3 linked regions of the Homo sapiens genome follow. The protein of the gene in region 1 purifies or fractionates together with the protein of each later gene. This does not show direct contact. Each region holds a gene or a part of one and is shown on either strand. Other genes may lie near its edges.

What was found. Proteins that work in one complex are often made in the same cells at the same time.
Region 2: the proteins of CDRT15 (region 1) and NUDT8 purify together in Homo sapiens (affinity purification with mass spectrometry; 3 studies listed by BioGRID and IntAct, with this or other methods). This does not show direct contact.
Region 3: the proteins of CDRT15 (region 1) and DPY19L1 purify together in Homo sapiens (affinity purification with mass spectrometry; 3 studies listed by BioGRID and IntAct, with this or other methods). This does not show direct contact.

What each region holds. Positions count from the first base shown.
Region 1 is NC_000017.11:14,235,173-14,240,680, forward strand, and holds CDRT15 (CMT1A duplicated region transcript 15 protein), read right to left. Parts: upstream 1,691-5,508; 5' UTR 1,662-1,690; coding exon 1,400-1,661; intron 1,259-1,399; coding exon 1,110-1,258; intron 840-1,109; coding exon 684-839; 3' UTR 501-683; downstream 1-500.
Region 2 is NC_000011.10:67,626,868-67,633,947, forward strand, and holds NUDT8 (mitochondrial coenzyme A diphosphatase NUDT8), read right to left. Parts: upstream 3,071-7,080; 5' UTR 3,045-3,070; coding exon 2,851-3,044; intron 2,185-2,850; coding exon 2,052-2,184; intron 1,534-2,051; coding exon 1,456-1,533; coding exon of another isoform or gene 1,438-1,455; exon of another isoform or gene 1,385-1,437; coding exon 1,079-1,384; 3' UTR 1,071-1,078; downstream 1-1,070. Other genes in the region: T-box transcription factor TBX10, read right to left, coding at 4,738-5,027, 5,451-5,545, 5,736-5,803, 6,081-6,236. UniProt on the Homo sapiens protein: Acyl-CoA diphosphatase that mediates the hydrolysis of a wide range of CoA and CoA esters yielding 3',5'-ADP and the corresponding 4'-phosphopantetheine derivative as products.
Region 3 is NC_000007.14:35,033,916-35,041,705, reverse strand, and holds the start of DPY19L1 (protein C-mannosyl-transferase DPY19L1), read left to right. Parts: upstream 1-4,220; 5' UTR 4,221-4,311; coding exon 4,312-4,609; intron 4,610-4,784; exon of another isoform or gene 4,785-4,920; intron 4,921-7,790. UniProt on the Homo sapiens protein: C-mannosyltransferase that mediates the C-mannosylation tryptophan residues on target proteins.

The DNA.
Region 1 (5,508 bases):
TGCAGAGAGCTCCCTCATCCCTTCTGTCATGTAAAGACACAGTAAAAAAGATGGCTGTCTATGAACCAGGAAGTCAGCCCCACGGAATCTGCTGACAATTTGACCTTGGATTTTACCATCTCCAGAACTGTGAGAAATCAATTTTCTACGCTACCTAGTCTATGGCATTCTGTTTTGACACCCAGATTAGCTAAAGTAGCAGCATATCAACTTGCACACATAATTCTTGGAAACTCTGATGCCAAATCCTTGATGGCAAAAGGTGATTGATCTGCCGGAGACATGAGCCTACATCATCCCTCTTTCCACAATAAACCAGAGAGTCAAAACAGTCAAGAGTAGGTCAAGGTCTTCTAAAAGCCATACCTGAAAGGTTTCCAATAACAGATGACTCGATGGTAATTCAGCCACACAAACAACCACAACAAAAGACACAACTATCAGAGATTTTCAGGATAGCCTCAAAAACACCATCTAACATTAGGGAGTTCAAAAAGGCATGAAGTTTCAGAAATCAAACTTTATTGTAATCTCGTTTCATCAACTTGTAATTCTAACACTATTAATAAATGGTAGGGCAGGTGGTGGCATGGAGAGCCTGGGGCACAACGGCTGTCGTTAAAAGCTTTGTTTGCTTTACCCTTTGGAGCCACCTCCTGGTCCCCTCACCCACTGCCCGCCTGTTAAGGGCCTGTCCCGGGCAGCACATTAGGGGCAAACAGCCTGGATGCCCAGCTGTGGACCCGCATCCATGCCTGGAGGAGGAGGTTGCCTCTGGGAGCAGGCGTAGCTGCTGGAACTCTTCTTCCCAGCCTTCTTTTAATGCTCTCCGGCACCTCCTGCACACAGATAAACCAGGATCAGGAGAATAAACGGACCTGCAGCAGCAGGACTGTGGTTCTAGTGAATGAGAGAAGCCTCTCTCCAGCGAGGTACAGGAGGCCAGGCCAAATGCCCTGCTCTCTGCCTGCATGTTTGCCACCGTGCCCAGGACTAGGGGCAGCATGGGAGCTGCTGGCTGGGGCTGTGCTGGTCACCCCCTCCCTCCCACTTCTCTCTCCAGCCACGCTTTCAGTTCCAGGGTTAGGGCTAGTGGCTACAGTACGTGCCGTGATTTCAGGCAGCTCCTCGTTGGTCTGGTCCTTGGCTGGAGCTCCCTCCAGCTCCAGTGCTCTCTCTGGAGGGGCCTCTTCCCATGCTGGCTCTGGCTCCGCCGCTGGTGCTGGCAGTGCTCTTACTTCTGCACATGGACCAGGAGCTGAGAAAGGAGAAAGGGTCACCAGCCTCAGTCACTTTCCACTGGAATTTCCAAACACAGAAACGACCTCACTGAATTTAAGGGAATTCCAGCCCAAAATCACCGCCCCCGCAAAGTCTTCCAGGCTGCAGGCCACCTCACCAAGTGTCTGTGCCTCAATGAGCTCCTGAATCTCCTGGACAAGGACAGTGTGCAGCTGCAGCCCCAATGGGATCTCTGGTGTGGCCTGGCCTGCTAGGGCCTGCCCCAGGCTGTCCTGTGGTACCTGGATGCGCCTTATTACAACGGGCGACAGGCGTCTGGGGTGAGGGATGAGCCTTCTTCGGCATCGTCGGAAAAGGCTCTCACTCCCTCCATTCCTGAAGCAGCAACCTCTCGAAGTGGGGAAGCAACACGAGAACATCTTGCTCTCTTGAGCGACTCCCACCAAGTGAGCTGTTTACGGCGCTGACTCTAGGATATGGGTGCCTGGTTACCAGAGTTCTAAGTTCTGTTCGTGTGGTCATCATCCAGGAAGTGAGGTCGCTTCTTTACGGTTCTGTCCCCTAGTCCCCTTCCTTCCATAAGACCTACTCAGGACTCCACTGGGCTGCTGACTACTCACCCTCCCCTCAGGTCATCTCCTGACCCGTACACAGTTATGTCCACCCAGGGTCTGCTTGGACACCTGTGCCTGATGTTCACCAGGGGCCAGATGTCGTCCTCAGGCCTGATGTCCACCTGGGGCCTGATGTCTGCCTTGGCCTATGTCCCTCTTGGGGCCTTGTGTTCACCTGGGGACTGTATCCAGCTGGGGCCTGATGGCCTACTGGGTCTTGTTGTTCACCTAAGGCCTTGTGTCCACCTGGGGACTGGTGATCACCTGGGGCCTGGGTGTCCACCTGAGGCCAGAGGTGCACCTAAGGCCTGAGTTTTCACCTGGGCCTGATGATCACCTGGGGACTTGGGTCTAATGTCTACCTGGAGCCTTGGGTCTAATGTCCACCCGGAGCCTACGTATCTACCTAAGGCATGATGTCTACCTGCGGCCTGATGTCCTCATGAGTCTGGTGTTCAACATGGGCCTGCTGTCCACCTAGGGCCTTGGTGTCCATCTGGGGCCTGGTTGTCAACTTGGGGCCTGGTATACACTTTGAGTCCAGGGTCCACCTGGGGACTGACGTCTGCCTGGAGGACTGACGTCCTCCTGAGTGAGGTGGGAGGATCTCTGGAGCTCAAGAGGTTGAGACCACAGTGAGCTGTGATTGTGCCACTGCCCTCCAGTCTGGGTGACAGAGTGAGACCCTGTCTCAAACAAATAAACAAAAAAGCCACACAAATTATATAGCTATACAAAAATATTTTGTTTCTTTTTAACCTTATTCTATGAGCTTTTTTCATTATTTATTTATTTTACTTTTAAACCGTTTGTTGTTAAAAAACAAGACACAACCAGACACTTTCGCCTAAGGCTAAGCAGGGTCAGGATCATCAATTTCACTGTCCTCTACCTCCACATCTTGTCCCACCGGAAGGTCTTCAGGGGCAGTAACAGGCATGGAGCTGTCATCTCCTTGATAAGAATGCCTTCTTCTGGAAACCTCCTGAAGAAACTGCCTGAGGCTGCTTCACAGTTACCTTAAAAAAAAGTAGTAAGCATATACTCTAAAATAACAATAAAAAATATAGGATATTAAATACATAAAACAATAACATCAGCATCTATTATTTTCATCAAGCATTATGCACTGTTGATAATCGTATGTTCACACCCACATCACCACAAACATGTAAGCTCTGTGGTGTCCAATGAATCTGCCTTTCTTTACCTACAACTGTCTTGGTAAATTCTTTTACCACCCATCCCACTGTCCCAGAGAGTCGCTGCTCCCCTACGACACTGAGTAAGGAGGAGATACAGCTGACACCACCTGGAAATATTCCCTGAGGCCAAGCTCAGGCCACAGATTATGGTGAAGCCTCCAACTTCCACACTGTAAGCCACCAGGGGCCTGGTGACCCCTGTGACGAGGCCACAGGGAGCATCTATGGATCAGGCACTTACAGAGGCCCCAGGGTATACCCCAGCACACTGGAGGCCCCTCCCCACACCCACAACCCCAGGCATGTATACAGGATCCACACTCCTGCCCACAAACACCAGGTAATGCATGAGGGGAAGGGAGGCTGCCTTGAGACTAAGCACTGCCTCACTACCTAAAAGCACTCTGTCATCATGAGGGTGAACCAGAGATTGCCTGGACTGGCCGTTTAATCCATCACTTTGGCCCTTGAGTTACTAACATTGTTGCAACTGTCCAAAGTTACTAACTTTGGGTTTTCTGCCCACCTAACTGCCGGAAGCTAAGATGGCAACATCAGTATCAGTCAAATAAAGCAACACGCGTTAACTTAGTGACCACTACACAAGCTCACCAGTACATCCTTCTGGTGCCACCAGGATGCCACTTACTCCTCTACATAAGAGAAAGGATTTTTAAAGTAGAATATGAATTATTGCTTTTTATGGAGATGCCATTATTAAATTTTATAATTGTCCTGCTTTTTCCCAAGTGTGACATATAAACAGTTAAAATTGATTCCAGATCATTAAATCATATGCAATAATTTTTATATACATTATCTGCTGAGTTGAATATTACATAAGTCTTCTCCAACCCATAGGTAATCTTACAAAGACAGAGGCATATTTTTTAAATGACTGAGCTTGATATCAAACAATATAAAGGCTGTTAAGAATGCTGAGATGGATTTGTTTAATAGATGTCAAACCGGCCTTCTTTCACAGGAAGCGCATACGGCCGCTGCACTTGCACCGGACAATTTATTTGTGTGTCCATGGACAAGATGTAAAGAAAAACAATGAATAACATCCAAAGCAGTGAAAACATTGCAGCTGGGCTCTGGAATTCTTAGTAGAAACCATGAAAAGGCAATGAAAACACTTAGAGCAATTGCAGGTTAGAAACTGGGATTCACAGGAGCTTAATGGAGCACATGATGTTAAGTGAAGTGAGCCAGGCACAAAAAGACAACTACCACGTGATCTGACTTATGTGGAATGTAAAACAATTGAACTCATGGAAGCAGAGAGTAGAATGGAGGATACCAGGGGCTGGGAGGCAGGGGTTTGGGGAGACGGTGAAAGCGTTCTAAAGTGTAGTTAGACAGGACAAGATTGCGCCACTGCATTCCAGCCTGGGCGACAGAATGAGACTCCATCTCAAAAAAAAGAAAATATTCTTGGTCAGGTGTGGTAGCTCGGCACCTGTAATCCCAGCTACTCAGGAGGCTGAGGGATGAGAACCCCTTGAACCCGGGAAGTGGAGGTTACAGTGAGCCGAGATCATGCCACTGCACTCCAGCCTGGGCAACAGAGGGAGACTCTGCATCAAAAATTAAAAAAAAAATCATTCTTGAATAAAAACACAACACCTTTAATTCCATGCTATTGTCCTTTATATATTAACTTGTAGAAAACGAAAACATTTATATAATGAAATTTATTATTCTACTTTTGATTAATATGTTCCCCTTATATCATGCAGTTTACTTCTTAATCAGTCTCCATAATCAACTGCATTTTTTTTTTTTTTGAGATGGAGTCTTGCTCTTGTTGCCCAGGCATGAGTGCAATGGCATGATCTCGGCTCACCTCTGCCTCCGGGGTTCAAGCTGTTCTCCTGTCTCAACCTCCTGAGTAGCTAGGATTATAGGCATGCGCCACCACGCCTGGCTAATTTTGTACTTTTAGTAGAGATGGGGTTTCTCCATGTTGGTCAGGCTGGTCTCGAACTCCCGACTTCAGGTGATTCACCCGCCTCGGCTTCCCAAAGTGCTGGGATTACAGGTGTGAGCCACCGCACCCAGCCGTATTTCCTTACAGATATTAAATTTGAAGCATTTGTCTTTTAAGATATCCTTTTGTCAGTTTCACTTACTGATGGCAACTTTCTACGTTGAGTAACATGATTCATCTCTGCTGTCTCGATCTGATCTCGTGATCCACCCACCTCAGCCTCCCAAAGTGCTGGGATTACAGGCATGAGCCACCGCACCCAGCCAATTTAATTTTTCTTAAACTGTAATTTCTATAATTTTATTCCTGTCAACGTTTTATAGGGAAGTTTTAAAACACACAGAAAAGTTGAAATTGTTAACATCCAGATACATACCCGCTAGATATGTACCGACTAGATTCTGCAATTGCCAGTGTTTTTCTCATCACATTTCTCTCCATATGCATCAAT
Region 2 (7,080 bases), on another chromosome or scaffold:
CTCCTGAGCCAGCGAGACCACGAACTCACCAGAAGGAAGAAACTCCAAACACATCCGAACATCAGAAGAAACAAACTCCAGACGCACCACCTTAAGAGCTGTAACACTCACTGTGAGGGTCCATGGCTTCATTCTTGAAGTCAGTGAGACCAAGAACCCACCAATTCCGGACACACAACCGGCCATGTGACAGGCTCAGGGAAGGACATGTGACTCAAGGCAGGCCAGTGAAGTGCAATTCTAGGTTAGACTGGCCGGGAAGGAGCGGCCGTGTTTTCTGTTGATGGATGCTGCTGCCCTCTCCTCAACCTCTCACGCTCTGCACTACAGACAACCTCCTTGGGGCTGAGGCCAGCACAGCGCAAAGCACAGCAAGAGGGGAGCCCGAGCCCCTGGATCCAGCCATCCTCCACGGCAAGCTCAGACCACCCGCTCCCTCAGCTCTTTCACAGAACCCTGGTCTACCTAGTTGATGTCTTATATAATTCCACTATTATCTGTGATTAATTAATGTGGAACCACATGATTATCTGTGTGACCTGGTCTGAGGTCTCCCCTAGACTGAGCACCCCCTCTGGACGGCAGGTGAGCATCTGACCGGTCCACAGCTGTGGCCCCCACACAGCAGCTGGCACACACAGGGGCTCTGCATGTTAGACTCCTGCAGTAACACCCAGGGGCATGGGTGCGCCTTACTCCTCTCTGGGATCCCGGAGCCCAGCACAGCGTCAGCCAGGCACAGCAGAGAGAACAGGAGGTGCAGGCTGAGACAGGGCAGTGCAGTGCCTAAGAGTCTGGGCTGTGGAGTCTGAGAGCTCTGGTTCCAATCCCAGCGTGGGGCCCTTAGGCAAGGTGTCTCTCCTCCCTGAAAGCAGTCTCACCAGCCAGAGACAGTGTTGGCCCTGCCTTATGGGCTGTTGTGAGGGTGAGATGAATTGACTCCAAGTACTTGGCACCCAGGAAGTGTCCATTGCTGTGGGGCATGGCGTGACTGGAAGGAGGAGCCCCAGCCAGCGACCTGGAGTGGTCTGCCCAAGGTCAAGGCCCCAGTACAGCAGAAGCAAGAGCTCTAGAGCTGTCAAAGACCTTTATTCAGTCCTGGAGTGGAGCTGGCCTGACAGGGTGAAGCCAGGGGCTGCTTAGGGCGGGCCAGACCCTCAGCCCCTGAGCAGGTCAGGCCGGCCAGGCGGGGCTGGTAGGTACCAGGTGCCAGCAGCTGCAGGGCAAACTCAGTGATGACAGCTGTGAGGCCCCAGACCCGGTGTGGTCCATGCAGGAAGACGGGTAGTGTGTAGCGGAAGTGGCCACCCCGGCAGAAGTGGGTATAGCCCTGATTCTGCGTCTGCAGCAGGTGGGCCAGCGGCAGTGCAAACACCTCATCTACCTGCAGGCAGGAGGCAGAGAGGGTAGACAGAGGACTGGAACAGCCCAACCCCCTCATATCCCCCAGCTCACCTCCTCCGAGTTGGGCCTGAGGCTCTGGGGATCCAGTGGGCCTACACCAGCAAGCACTGGCACCACGGTGGCCTTTTGCTGGGGAAGAGGGCAGGTGGTCAGGGAAGCATGGCCTTCGCTGGGTTTGAAGGCTGGGGAGGGGAGTGTGAGAGGAAGACCCCTTTGCCATGCATAGGCCTTTGGTAGTCATGTTCGGGTCCACCTGCCTGTGTCCTCCAGCCATGCTGACTGACTCAGGTCCCCTCAAATGCACTAGACCTGTTCCCTCTGCTTAGGACAATCTCCCACTTGGCATTCAAGCCTGGGTTCAATCCCTGCCTACCCCATGAAGCTTCCCTGACCCTAATCCACCAAACTGAGTGGAGCTGGCCCACCCCATCGCCCTGGGCCACCTCTACTCAGGACACCAGAGCCTCCCCAATCCCTTCCCGAGGGGGTGTGTGGGGTGGTGCATGTGACCAGGCAGGTTAGGGGCACCCTTCCACACTTTGTGCCCGTGGGGGTCCATGACCACTCTCCTGGTCCCTGGTAGCCCAGCTCCAGGGCAGGCACAGAGTGAGTGAATGGGGTGGGGTGGCCTCAGCCAAGTGGCTTACCGGATCATACACAGGCCGCAGCAGGCCCCACACGTGCTCCTCGGGCACTGCCAGGCCCAGCTCCTCCCGGGTTTCCCGCAGGGCCGTGTGCACCACATCTTGGTCAGCCGGGTCGCACTTGCCGCCTGGGAAACTAAACAGACACAAGGAGTCTGGTCCTTGGACTCTTGGGGCCACGGAGAGGTCGGGGTATCGGCAGTGCGGGGGGGGCCACTGGCCCACCGAAGTGTCGCCTGCCTCTGCCCCTAGTTTACTGGGAGGCCCCAGGCAAGCCATGCGACCTCTGGAGGCCAGTTTACCTCCCTGAGCAATGGGGATAAGGAAGAGAGGCCCGGGACAGCGCAGGATAAGAGGGTCTGCAGCAGGGGCAAGAAGATCCTGGGGCTCAGATACCCAAATTCGGCCTATGGTGGCCCCAGCAACACTGACATTGTCCTCAGGATGTTCTTAATTCCCGCCGGGCGGGGCCCGAACCTCTCCGTAGTCGCCGGCAGGGGGCGGCGTCCGCCCTCTAAGCGGGAAACAGCTCAAAGGGGTGTCCCGGCCCAGGCGTGCGCGCAAGGACGCGTACGAGGGGCCCACGCGGCGAGGACGTGGCGCCCCGGCAGGTGCACCGGGGCCGACGGACACGGATCGCTGACCTCTCGCTGCAGCCCTTGGGCGGAGGGACTCTCCCCAGACCCATTTTACGGAGGCGGAAACCGAGGCTCGAAGGGGCTAAGTGCCCTGCCAGAGGTCCCTGCCAGCCCCGGGCTCCTGTAGCCTCCGGCAAAGGGCGAGGAGTTCCCGGCCGCTGTACCTGACGTCGCCCTTGTGCCTCCCGGTCAGGCGGCTGGACCGCAGCGTGTACAGCAGCGCCGGGACCCCACGCACTGAGCAGAGCGGCACGAGCACCGCGGCCGACGCGGGCCGCGCGCGGAGCCGGGCCGTGGCCCCTGCCAGCAGCCGGCGGCAGCGCAGCTCGCCCTCGGCCGACAGGCAGTCGGGCAGCATGTCAAGTCCTGCGCGGCCGGGACACTGAGGGCGCGGGATCGGGCGAGGGAAGAGGCGGGGCGAGGCGGGGCGGGGCGCTCAGCCCGGGTCCCTCCGAAAGCTGAGAGGGAGAAGGGGCAGCCCGCGCGACGCGTCCCGCCTGGGGGGCTGCAGAGCGGCAGCGGCGTCGGGGGGCCTCAGTGGGGTGGGTCTGTTCGTGGGCGGGGCCTTCCCGGAGACGGGGCCTCGGTGGGACTGGGTCTGTTCGGGGGCGGGGCCTGTTTGAAGGCGGGTCCTCGGTGGGACGGGGTCCGTTAGGGGGCGGGGCCTGTTTGAAGGCGGGGCCTCGGTGGGACGCGTTGAGTCCCCCGGATGGGAGGGACGGAGGGCGGCGGGGCGGGGCGGGGCGGGGCCTGCGCGGGAGCCGGACTCGGACGTTACTGCCAAAGGGCGGCGGGGCCTAGTAGGCAATCGAGGTTGGGGCGGGCTGGGGGCGGGGCCTGGACCGGAGCTTTTGCTACGAAGGACTGGGGGGCGTGGCCAGGAGGACTGTGCTTCCGGCAGGGCCGGGCCGTGGCCGGGGGTGTGGCCGCGGGGAGGGAGATGGGCGCGGAGCTGCAGGACCTGCCGGTTGTGTTCTCCGAGATCCTGAAACCACGCGAACCGTGAAGCGCCCGGCGACCGTCCTCGGTCCCGTTGGGTCCTGGCGTTGGGGTGTCTGATGAGGCCCCGCCGGCCCCCACTGGTCCGTCCCTCCCCTAGGGGCTCCAGGATGTACGGAGCCGGGATCCCACGGGGACGCCCCTCCAGGAACCCGAGGTCGATCGGTGCGCGAGAGGAGCGTCCGGCCCAGCCCTCCCTCCGGTCCTCCCTCCCGATACCGCTGGGTGGCGCGCGCCGCCCCCAGTCTTGTCTTCCCCTCTGGCTCCGTCGGACTCCAGCCCCAGGCCTTTGACCTCCTTGTCCCAGCGTCCAGAGCTCTTCTCCCTTCCTGCCTTGAGTCTTGACCGGATTCCCAAATCCCTCCCCCTTTCCTACCTCGGCCCCTGTGGTCACTGACCACCGTGGTTCTGCGCCCTTCCACCAGACCCTGGGCTTGGGGACCAGATGACCCCAGCCTTGCGCACAGCATTTAAACGTGGGGTGGCGGGTGTCCGCCATGCTCTGCTGTGTGACGTTGAGCAGGTCCCGCGCCTCTCTGAGCGCCAGTTTCGATCCTCATCTGGGCAAGTGCAGCCCTGCCACTGGGCTGGAGTCACCACTTTTAATATTACTGTGTGCTCCCAGGGATGCGGACGGCACTGGGCAGAGCTTCGGGATGCCTACAGGGCTGATGTGGGGACTATGATGGGTCTGGGAGTTCCTGAGGCCCCCACCCACCCTGACCACGACGACAGAAGTGCTCTGACCACTCATGCCAAATAGTTTAATGTTAGGGGGAAGGGAGAGGTAAGGCAGGGTTTTCGGGAGTTACCCCCAAAGCAAGAGGGCACAGTATTCAGGCTGCTGGGGTTGGGAGATAGAAGTCCTGGTTCCAAGCTTGCCATGGTCCCAGCCTTGCTGTGACCCTGGGCAGGTAGCCTCTTTCTCTAGACTTTCACCTACCCTGCTCTCCTTGAGACAGAGATGGGGCTGGAGGGGGCGGGGCAGAGGCTGATTCCCACACCCGGTGTAAGGTCCAGGGTAGCAGGGCTTCCCCCCAGGGCTTCTGGCATCACTGGGAGTCCTGGCCAGGCCCCAGGCACACCACAGTGGGGGACAGGAGCCCCAGCCCAGCTGGGAGAGGCAGGCCTCCTTGATCCCTATCAGCCCGGATGTTGGGGAGGGGGTATGGTGCTGGTCGGGTCCTTGGGATCCCTAGGTGGCTCGGGGCTCCAGAGTACAGGCTCTGATACGTGACAGGCCTGTAGGTGGCCGGGGCCAGCAGGACCTCAGGTGGGGGCAGCAGCTGATGATGGAGCCAAGCAGGGGTCTTGGAGGTGGAAGCTGAAGCTTTGTTGGGGTCTGAGGGAGGAAATGAGTGGACTCTGGGCCTCCCATCGCATCCTCATCCCTCATCCCAGGCCTGCCCTGGTCCCTTCCTGCTCCTCCTTCCCAAGTTACCTACCTCTCAGCCTTCGCCTTTGCTTTTCCCTCTGCCTGGAATTTCTTCTTCACCTTCTCCCTCTGTCCAAACCCTTCCCAGTCCTCCAAGGCCCAGCTTGAGAGCCACCTCCTGCAGGAAGCCTGCCTGGCACCCCCTGCCTGTGCTCTTTGCCCTGAGCCCCATATTGTCTTAGGCATGTCTGCTTCCCCCTCCGTGTGTCCACACAGGGGCCCTGTGGGTTCGCTGAGCTGCTGAAGCCCCTTCCTGGAGGTCCTGTCCCTTTGCCTTCCGCCCACTGTGTACACCTTAGTCCCACTATGTCTGCAGGCCTGGGGCCTTACCTTTCTCCCTGTCTGTGGCACCCTTCAGCACACAGGGACTGAGGCTGCTGTGACTCCGGGCTGGGACACTGAGCAGGGGCCGTGGGGCCACAGGCCTGAAAGAGCAAGCGAGAATGGGGGGAGGGGATCAAGGGGAAGAACCCAGGCCAGGGATCATGGCCAGCTTCAGATGGTGGGGCCCCAGGATGGGTCAGAGGGTGTGACCCTGAAACAAGGGTCAGGAACTGAGGCCTTAGGATATGCCTGGGGTGGGGGTGAGGGGCTAGGGTCAGGGTCAGACAGTACCAGGAGTCCAGGTCACTCTCTCTAAAGCCTTTGGCAAAAGGGTTGCTGGCGATTTTCAGCTGGGTGATCTGCAGGAGACAAAGTGCAGTTGTGGGCTGGCCATGAGCCAGGCTCAGCCACCTTGTCCTCCCGGGAACCGGCAGTCAGGAGGCCCTGGCACCTGGGCCTCTTGGCCCAGGAACTCTGAGCTGATAGGAGTGCGGGCAGGGCCTTGACTGATGGCAGATACTCAGGGCAAGTTGGGAGGGCAGTAGTCTGTGCCAGTGAGGGCTGCAAGCCTCAGGGCTCAGTCTCCACCCCTGTGAAATGGGCCTGCAGCGGGTGCTCCCGAGCTGGTTCACCCACCCTGTGGTTCTGATAGGCTGTCACTGCTGTGAACTGGGTCTCTGTGAAGATGAAGGACTTGAAGTTCTCCTGGGCATAGCGCTCACTGTCCTTGCGTGGGTCCACGAAGACCACGTGGAAACGGGGCTGGTAGCGGTGCATAGAGTTGAGAATGATCTGTGGAAGGGACAGAGCAGGGGTACAGGGGTGAGGCGGAGTACAGCGGACTCCCTGAGGCTGGAGTCCTTCCCTCCAAGCCGGGAGACTGCCCTGGGCCTGCCACCCTGTTCCTTTCATGGCAGCACAGGGTCTGAGCTGGAGAGGCTGCAGTTCCGTGTCAAAGGCCCCTTTGGATCATGGATCCTTGCCTCCATGTCCTCTCACACCCCACATCCCAGCTGCCACCCACTGCCTGTGTGCTGGCCCGTCACTGTCGCGTTCACCAGTTTCCTCGGTTGCCTCCTGGCCTGTCCCCTGTCCCCGCCTTACCCCTCTGTTCCTTCTCCACACAGCTGCCCGGGAAGCCACATCATATGCCCCCTGCTCCTAACCGTCCAGCGACTTCCACCCCACACGGTAAAAGCCAGAGCCCCCCGAAGTCAGCCCGACCCCTCAGGCATTCGCCTCCTTGGCTTCCCCTCCTGGCTCCACTCCGGCCCCATGGATGCGTCTTGCAATTCTGCCGGCCCAGGATTCTCTGGCCTCAGGGCCTTTGCACCTACTGTCCCCTCTGACGGGCATGGGCCGCTGCATCCTCCACCTCCTTCAGGTCTTCAGCTCCCTGCGCCCCCTGAGAGCAGCAGCACCCTTTCTCCGCCCCCCTTCCGTACCTCTGCTTCCTCTTTGGCATTTGTCCCTATCTGAGACGCTGGGGACAGTGTCTTCTGGACCCTGCCTTTGCCCCAGGAAGTGACCTCTGTGAGGGCAGGGATCGTTGGCTGTTTGACCAAGTGTTAATGATGCTGTGTCCACACATAAAGCGGGCCCGGCCTAGGCTGGGCGTTCCATACCTTGTCCTCCC
Region 3 (7,790 bases), on another chromosome or scaffold:
TATTCCCTGAAAACTAAATCACGTTGGCCATCATCTCTTCCCTTTGGAAATCTTTTAGTACTTATTCTCTGAATCACATATTTTGCTATATATGTTTTTCTAGCTTACCCTGCCTGTCCAATGAAACTGTAAGCCCTTGGGGATGGGGATTTAGTATATGAATTTTAAGTGTCTCTAATATCTACTAAAGACACAGTAAGCCCTCAACAACAGGAATTACATTCTAAAGAGACATGCCTCTCTGCAACAGAGTGGTTCTTGATGATGCACTATAACTAGACCTAATAATGAACTCTGAGTTCCTCAGGAACACTCATTGGAGCATGAACAGTTTAAATTACAAGGTCAGCTCCAGGAAAGACAGAAGATAAAATGTGAAGAGCAATAGAGTAGCAATTTACATTTGTTCTCATCAGACTAAAAGAATATATTATAATATAGTGTCAAGTTAATGCTGGAGCTTTGGAAAGTAGAATGTTACAGACATATTTTGTTGCACCCATTTTAGGTTTCCAAGAAGTGTGCTGGAATTATGCAGGTTCCTCTCTTGGAATGAGCAACTGCTTAGCAAGACAAATGTCAGATTCTAGAACTTGACCCTAGGACACTTTTCCAATACAGTGATCAAGTGACCTAGTTCAAGGAAATGACAAATAAATGTCATGGATTTCTCATTCAGCTGTCACTCTATGGGTAGGAGAGCAAGTAGGAGGAAAAGGGGAATATTTAGAAGTTCTAAATGGGGCCTTTAAAATGCCAATGTGGAGACATAAGAAAACTGGTTCCCAACATAGTCTTCCCTTGACCAAATTTACTTTTTTCATTGCCCATCTGACAATGTTTCCCTGATTCCTATACCTTATTATCACTAAGCTTTATTTCTCCACATCTTGTTTTCTTCTATGATTTTATGTTCTTGCTTTTTATTTTATGCTCATTTCCTCCTTATAATCTCCTCTGTCTCCATCCCCAAAGTTTAAAAGATATGTCTTTTTAATTAAACATTTTTATTTCAATGCCCAAAGTGTAACTTGTAGTGAGAAAAAGACTCGGCTTGCACCCCAGGGGCCAGGGCAGCAGCAATTCTTTATAAGTGGTTGCCCTTTCAGGTTCCTGTCCTTAAAAATCTGTCTGCCCTGACCCAGTATTTCTATAGCATCATGCAGGAAGTACCTTTCTGGTGCATCTGGAACTCCCAGAAAAAAAGCACATTAAAGCTGGTAATTTTAATGCTTAATTTCATTATAATCTTAGATCCGTTCATAGATCATCCATGTACAAAATGTTTTTTTAATATGCAGCTTTCAGTTTGCCAGAGATTTTTTGTTTTTTAGCATCCACCGCTATGTGTGGCAGGCACTGGTCTACAGATACATATAGAAATTAACTGCATTCCCATTCTCTGCTCTTGTGGATCTCGTTGTACTAAGGATAAAATGAAATCTGGCACATAATCTTCCATGACTGTTCTGGTTTCCATTCCTCCACCCTTCCTGTGTGAAATGCCTCCCTTTTGGGAGGGGGCACGAGGAGTTGCCTACTATTTTATCCAGGCCTAAGGACCCATGAGATGGGCAACATTTGTAAAGCATCTGTGGAAAGCAGGAAACCATTCAGGCACATCAACTGCCCAGAGAGCTGAGAAGCTTGAAGCCCAGCAGGCCTGGCTTAAAGATCACGTGGCTGTTCTTGCTCTCCCGCTCAGAGTGGCATTCTCCCCTTGCTATACCCCAACTTGGAATGTCAACTTCAGGTTCTGGGAGGACAGAAGTTTGCCACTCTCCTTAAACGTCATCCACTACTTTGAACACTTATTGAGCAACTACCAACATCCAGACAATTTGAACATTCACTGAGCAACTACTTGGATATATGTAATTGTTAGATGCTTTACACACATTGTCTTATTTTTTACAAACCTGTGAACTAGATGTTTTTGTTGCCTCCATTTTAAGAATGAAGAAATCCAGACTCAAAGAGGTATAATACCTTGGTCAAGGCTGGTATGGGTCAATGTAGTGGCTGCAAACTGGATCTAAATTGACCGTGTTTAAGAAAAAAACAAACAAAACAAAAAAACCAAAAAACTAATACCTCACACTGCCCCTCTCCGCATGGTTGCCAAGCCGAGAAGGGGAACTGACAAGCACTTGTGGAACTGCATTCATTCACTCACTCATTCAACAAGTGTTTTCCTGGTACAAACGGTACCAGCTTAAGGGAGGCAGTTCCTGAATTCAGGGCCTATCACATAAAGTAGACACACAGCAATCTAATAATTCAAATGTTGAACCTCTTTTTCCATGCGTCTTTCTAATCATTAAAAAAAATCCATCATTTGTATTATTTTTATTTATTTATTTTTTTGAGATGGAGTCTCGCTCTGTCGCCCAGGCTGGAGTGCAGTGGCGTATCTCAGCTCACTGCAACCTCCGCCTCCCGGGTTCAGGCGATTCTTCTGCCTCAGCCTCCCAAGTAGCTGGGACTACAGGCGCCTGCTACCACGCCTGGCTAATTTTTGTATTTTTATTAGAAACAGAGGTTCACCATCTTGGCCAGGCTGGTCTTGAACTCTTGGCCTCGTGATCTGCCCGCCTCGGCCTCCCAGAGTGTTGGGATTACAGGCGTGAGCCACGGTGCCCGGCCAGTTATTCGTATTATCTTTAATAGGCATTGAATTAGCTTTCTTTTAACTGAATACATTCAACATTAATCCCAGAGGTAGCATTGAGTTCAGCTGACACAATGTTTCAGAATCCAAGCCTTCTGCATCCTACTTTCAACCATTATTTTTTAAACCAGTGTATAAAAATAGTTGTTCTTTGCTCCAATAAAGACATTGGAAAATCCAAATTCATAAACTAGACAGGGTATGAGGGAGTATTAATTAGCATGGCAAACACCCTCCCTTTACAAAATAATCCACTGTCTCTTAAAAAGGCTAACAATGAACGAATGCTGGTATTAGTAAAGAAATCACTGGGCAAAGAAACAAAGAGCGAGAAAGCCACGTGAAGTCCCTGGAATTACAATAGAGATAAGCAGAACGATGGGCCTTGATTTACAACATTGGGACTTAAAGACAACTTTTTGGAACAAGCCACTGGGCACGGCCAGGAAAGGAACCTCCCAGTTGTAATCCATGCTGTTGTAAGACTGTGTGCAAAGAATGCAGGGGTGGAGGGAGAATTGGGATCTACCTGGGTTTCTAAATTTTCCCGGGTTTAATTTACTCGTGCATTCTGCTATGTAAAAGAAAACATATTTTCGACTAAAATCTCCTATCTTATCAACGCCAAGTTTTCCTGCTTCCTATTAAGCAACAAGGTTACAGCAAGTGTAACAAACTGAATGTACTTATTGATGATCTTTCCTGCTCCAGCCAATCCATCCTATCACCTTCAGCCTGGCTCCTACCCTGGTCTTCAGTTTACACTTGTGCCTCGTCCCTTATCAGCTCCCCATGAGATTCCAGGCTGCTATTTTAATACTCTGTTACTATCTTAAATCGGGTCGCACCCGTTCTTCTTGTCGGTGAGTGAGGGGCTGCGCTCCAAGTTGCGCGACCACACTGCGGGGAGTAAACGGAGACGGTGACTTGATTGCCACCCGCGCGCTTCACATCGGTGGGGCCGACCAGGCGCCCAGGGCGCACGCACAGCGCCCCTAAGTGGCCGCTCCGGGCGCCTTCTCCCTGCCCCGCCGCGTCTCGCCTGCGCGGGCTCCAAGCGCAGCCTTAACAGGCTCCGAAACTTGAATCAGCGCCCCGATCCCGAGAGGGCTCTTCCTTCGGCCCCATCACTCCCACAATGGAAGGGCGGCCGCCTCCGGAAGGCCGTCCGCCCCCGCGTCCTCGCACCGGCCGAGCCCCGCGCGGGCGCCGAAGAGGTGTGGGTAGCCGGGCGCCAGAGGGGTCGGGCCCCGCCTGCGCCGGAAGTCCGCGCGTGCGCGCTGGCCGGCCTGGAGCGCGCGTCCGGCGCAGAGGGGCGGCGGGGGCGGGGCCGCGGCCGCTCGCAGGGTGTCCCCGCCCCCGCCCCCCGGCGTTCCGCGGTCGCCGTGACAACCGGAGCGGCGGCAACGGCGGCGGGCTAGCAAGTCCGGCGCCGCCTCCCGGCGGTACTGCCAGCCAGGCAGCAGCCGCCCGGCCTCCACGATCTCCCCGCCTCCCGGCCCGCGGGGAGGGACGAGCCCGCCCTCCACCCTCCGCCCGCCCGCCCGCTGGAGAGTGAGCTGCGCCCAGCCGCCCAGCCAGCCCGCCGTTCTCTGGCCGCCGTCCGGGCGCGCGCAGCGAGCGGGCGCGACTATGCCAAGATGGTCCTGCAGGCGCGGAACAAGCACCGGGAGGCGGCTCCCAAGCCGCCCCAGCCACCCCGCGCCTCACAGTCGCCGCTGAGGGGGGCGTCGGACGTCGGCGCCGGGGAGCCGGGGCCCGAGCGCGCGCCCCTGTCCCCGGGGCGCAAGGGCGCCGCGGGCAGGAAGGGGCCCCGCGCCGAGCCCGGCGCGCCGCCCGCCGGGGGCGGCCTTGGGGGGCGCCTGGCCGCCCGGCTGCGCTGGGCGCTGGGCCTGCGGCGCGCGGGGCGCGGCCGGACCTGGACCACGCTCCTGTTAGGTGAGCAGCCCTAGCGCCGGCGCCGCCGGGACGCGGAACTTTGAGGCGCTGGCCCCCTCCCCTCCCCTCCCCTCCCCTTCCTTCCCCTCTCCTCCCGCTTCCGCCGCGCCGAGCCCCGCCAGCCGGACCAGCCAGTTTGCAGCCCTCTCCGACTTTTTCTCTGGGACATTCTTACCTTCTCCTCCCCGCAACTCCCTGGCTCAGCTCTCCTCGCACGCTTCCCACCCGCGCTCTGCCTGGGCTTTAAAAGAATGGCCCGGGGATCAACAGCTGCCCGGCCTGGCCGCGGGCAGCAGGTCTGCGCTAACGAGACTTGAGCGCTGCTGATTGGTACGACTGGCCGCCTTCCCGTTATCTCGGCCTCTGACCGCCAGGATGGTTTGCTTTGGCTTGGAAACGATTCCGTGGAGCTCAAAGCAAACGCACGTTCCATGTCGTAGAGAGTTGCTTAAACTTATAATTAAATTTTAGCGTACTTTTTTCTTCCTGGCCGCAAACGCCGCTGGTGGCACTTTATTTGTGATTCCCCTCGACACGTCACTTTCTAGGTTGTGTTGTGTTTGGGGCGCCCGAGCCTTAATCCTCCCTGCTGCCCTTGGAACCTTTGGTGAGGAGGGCTCTCCTCCCCTCCCTCTGCCATTTACCAAATGGATGATGTGTAATGATGTGCTGAAAAAAAAAAACAAAGTTGACGCATTCGTATGTTTCGGACTGACTTCAGGTTTCCTCTGTTTCCTGGTTGAATTTTGATAAGGCAAGTTGTAGCAGTTTGGATAACAGGCCTAATTTTTCTAAGTCAACTAGTGAAATGCTGTTACATTGCTTTTTTCTATATGCCTCAGTGGGCTTTTCGCTACTGAACTATTTAATTACTGTTGATTTATCCCTTAGTATATTTTCAGATTCCCTTGGTGACTCAAAGTTCCCTTAGCCAGGAGTTGGGGTCCAGTATAAGTCAAGGAATAGGACACAGCAAATTGGCTTCCCCTGAGATCACAGCCACAAATAAAAGCCACTCAGTCATAAAAAGCCAGTCATCTCTGTATGTTTTAATGGGCTCAAGAAGGTTGTTCCTAGGGTACTTTTTTTCCCCCCATTGCCGATTCAAGCCTAGAAAAACCAAGTTTGTTTTTCTTTGTTTGTTTGTTTGTCTGTTTCCAGCACATTTCCCCCCGCCCCCTTTTTTTTTATCTCAGTAGCAAGCTTGAAAAGCTGGCTAGTATGCAGGTTAGAAAAGCTCACCTTGGGGAGGCAGCACGATACAGTGGATGAGGCAGAGCCTTCAGATCTAGTACACAGCGGTTCAGTTTGGTTTAAGTTTCAGGTTCCTTTGTGAGTCTTTCGTTCTCTGCTAGTGGGGGGTTATCACATGGCGAATTTACTCCACAGGGATCCACAGGATCTGTTAAGGATCATAACTAAAAGGTGTGGGTGATACATGGGAAGATACTTTGTGTTTAGAGCACTTGACACATTGTAGTTGTTGTAATAAAAGAAAGTGTGTGATGCTGATTTGAGATCTGATGACAGAATGGAGTTGCATTTTTATTGAATGACTAAACATTAACCACTTTGTAGTAAAATATAGAATGGCATTGCTTCTTCAGGGATGTTACAATAACAAATCTTAGAATAATGATATTTATTGCTATTTTCTGCATATTTTCTTTTTTGATTGCGTTTCCTTTGAATCTTCTTTGGATGGATGCATGACTTATATTTGGATGACTTACCTTTGGATTTAGTAATTCCCATACCTAAATACAGTTTTGTATTAATGTAACAGTATAGCACGTTGCTTGACTTGCCCCTTTGAGCATTGAAAGGAGGTACAGTGAATGTGGTAGATTGTATTTTTGGGTGTACCCTGGACCATGGCCATCAGATATATGGAAGTTGGATGAACAGACCCAGGTCTAGAGACTTTCTGTCCTTGTTAACCCTCTGCATGAGGCCCCAGGGCACCTTGAGAGATGATTCTGCTGAATGATTGGACCTGGGTTGCTTCTTTCTCTGGCTCTGTACCGTCATAAACTGATGTCAGACCTATTTCTTCCCCACGATTATGCCCTGCCACAGCGTCAAAAAACCACTCAGATCCTGCAGAGAGGAGCAGAGTTTAGACATTTTTGAAAGCTGCCTTATTTCCTGTTTTCTTCCCCCCTCCCAGAATGAGTGAGAGTTGAGCTGACATTATACAGTATTTCAATGTGGGACTTTAAAATAGCTGTTTGGTTTTCCACATTGCATTGCATATTCTTTTGTTCATCAAGAGTTCATTTGTAACTGATCAAAAAAAGAACAATTATAACAACTAAATATTAAGCTAGACAGAAATGGATTCATTTCTATTTAGAAAGTAATTTTGTAACTTAAAGCTCCGTGATAGAAACACACATTTTCAAGAGTTAGAAACTGTCTGGGGCTTTCCTCCATAGGTTCTAATCACTGATGAGGAACTCACTGCCTTCCAACATGGTCTTTCCACTGTTGGGCAGGGTTAAGCATTGTTGAAAAGTCTCTTTTCATAAATATATGTTTTTCTTATTGTGGGGCATTATTTGCTACTTATTTAGTGCTAATATTTGTAAAGAGGGGTTCTTGACATGTTTATTTTTAGAAGTTTCAACCTGATAGCTTCCTCATGCAGAGGTGGCTGTGACATAGTAAGAACCTTGACAATGTTTCCCAAACTTTTTTGACCACAGCTGACATTGTAACAATACATTTTATATTAAACCTGTTCACACTTCCACAATGCAACTCAGTACATATATGCATAAGTCTATATGTCTGTTGGTCTATTTATGTATGCCAGTGCTCCGTCATGGAAACAATTGTGGTAGTAAAAGATACACCCATTAGACATGCAAACAAAGCATGTCTGTGGTGAAAGACTAACATGAGATACTATATACACAACAATAAAACAAGAACCTGAGTATGGGAAAAGTGGATGATAAAAACTACCTTTTCCCCCCTTTGCATTAATCCTGTTTGACTCATTCCCATTGCCCACCTGGTTCCTGTGGTCAATGGCAAGGGTACACCTGCTATAACCTGGTTCCTTATTGACAAGGCTTTGCAACCTCAGCATTGTGGCATTTTGGGTGGGATAATTTTTTTGTTGAGGGGGCTTTCCTGTGCACTGCAGGATTTTAGCAGCATCCTTGGCCTCCAC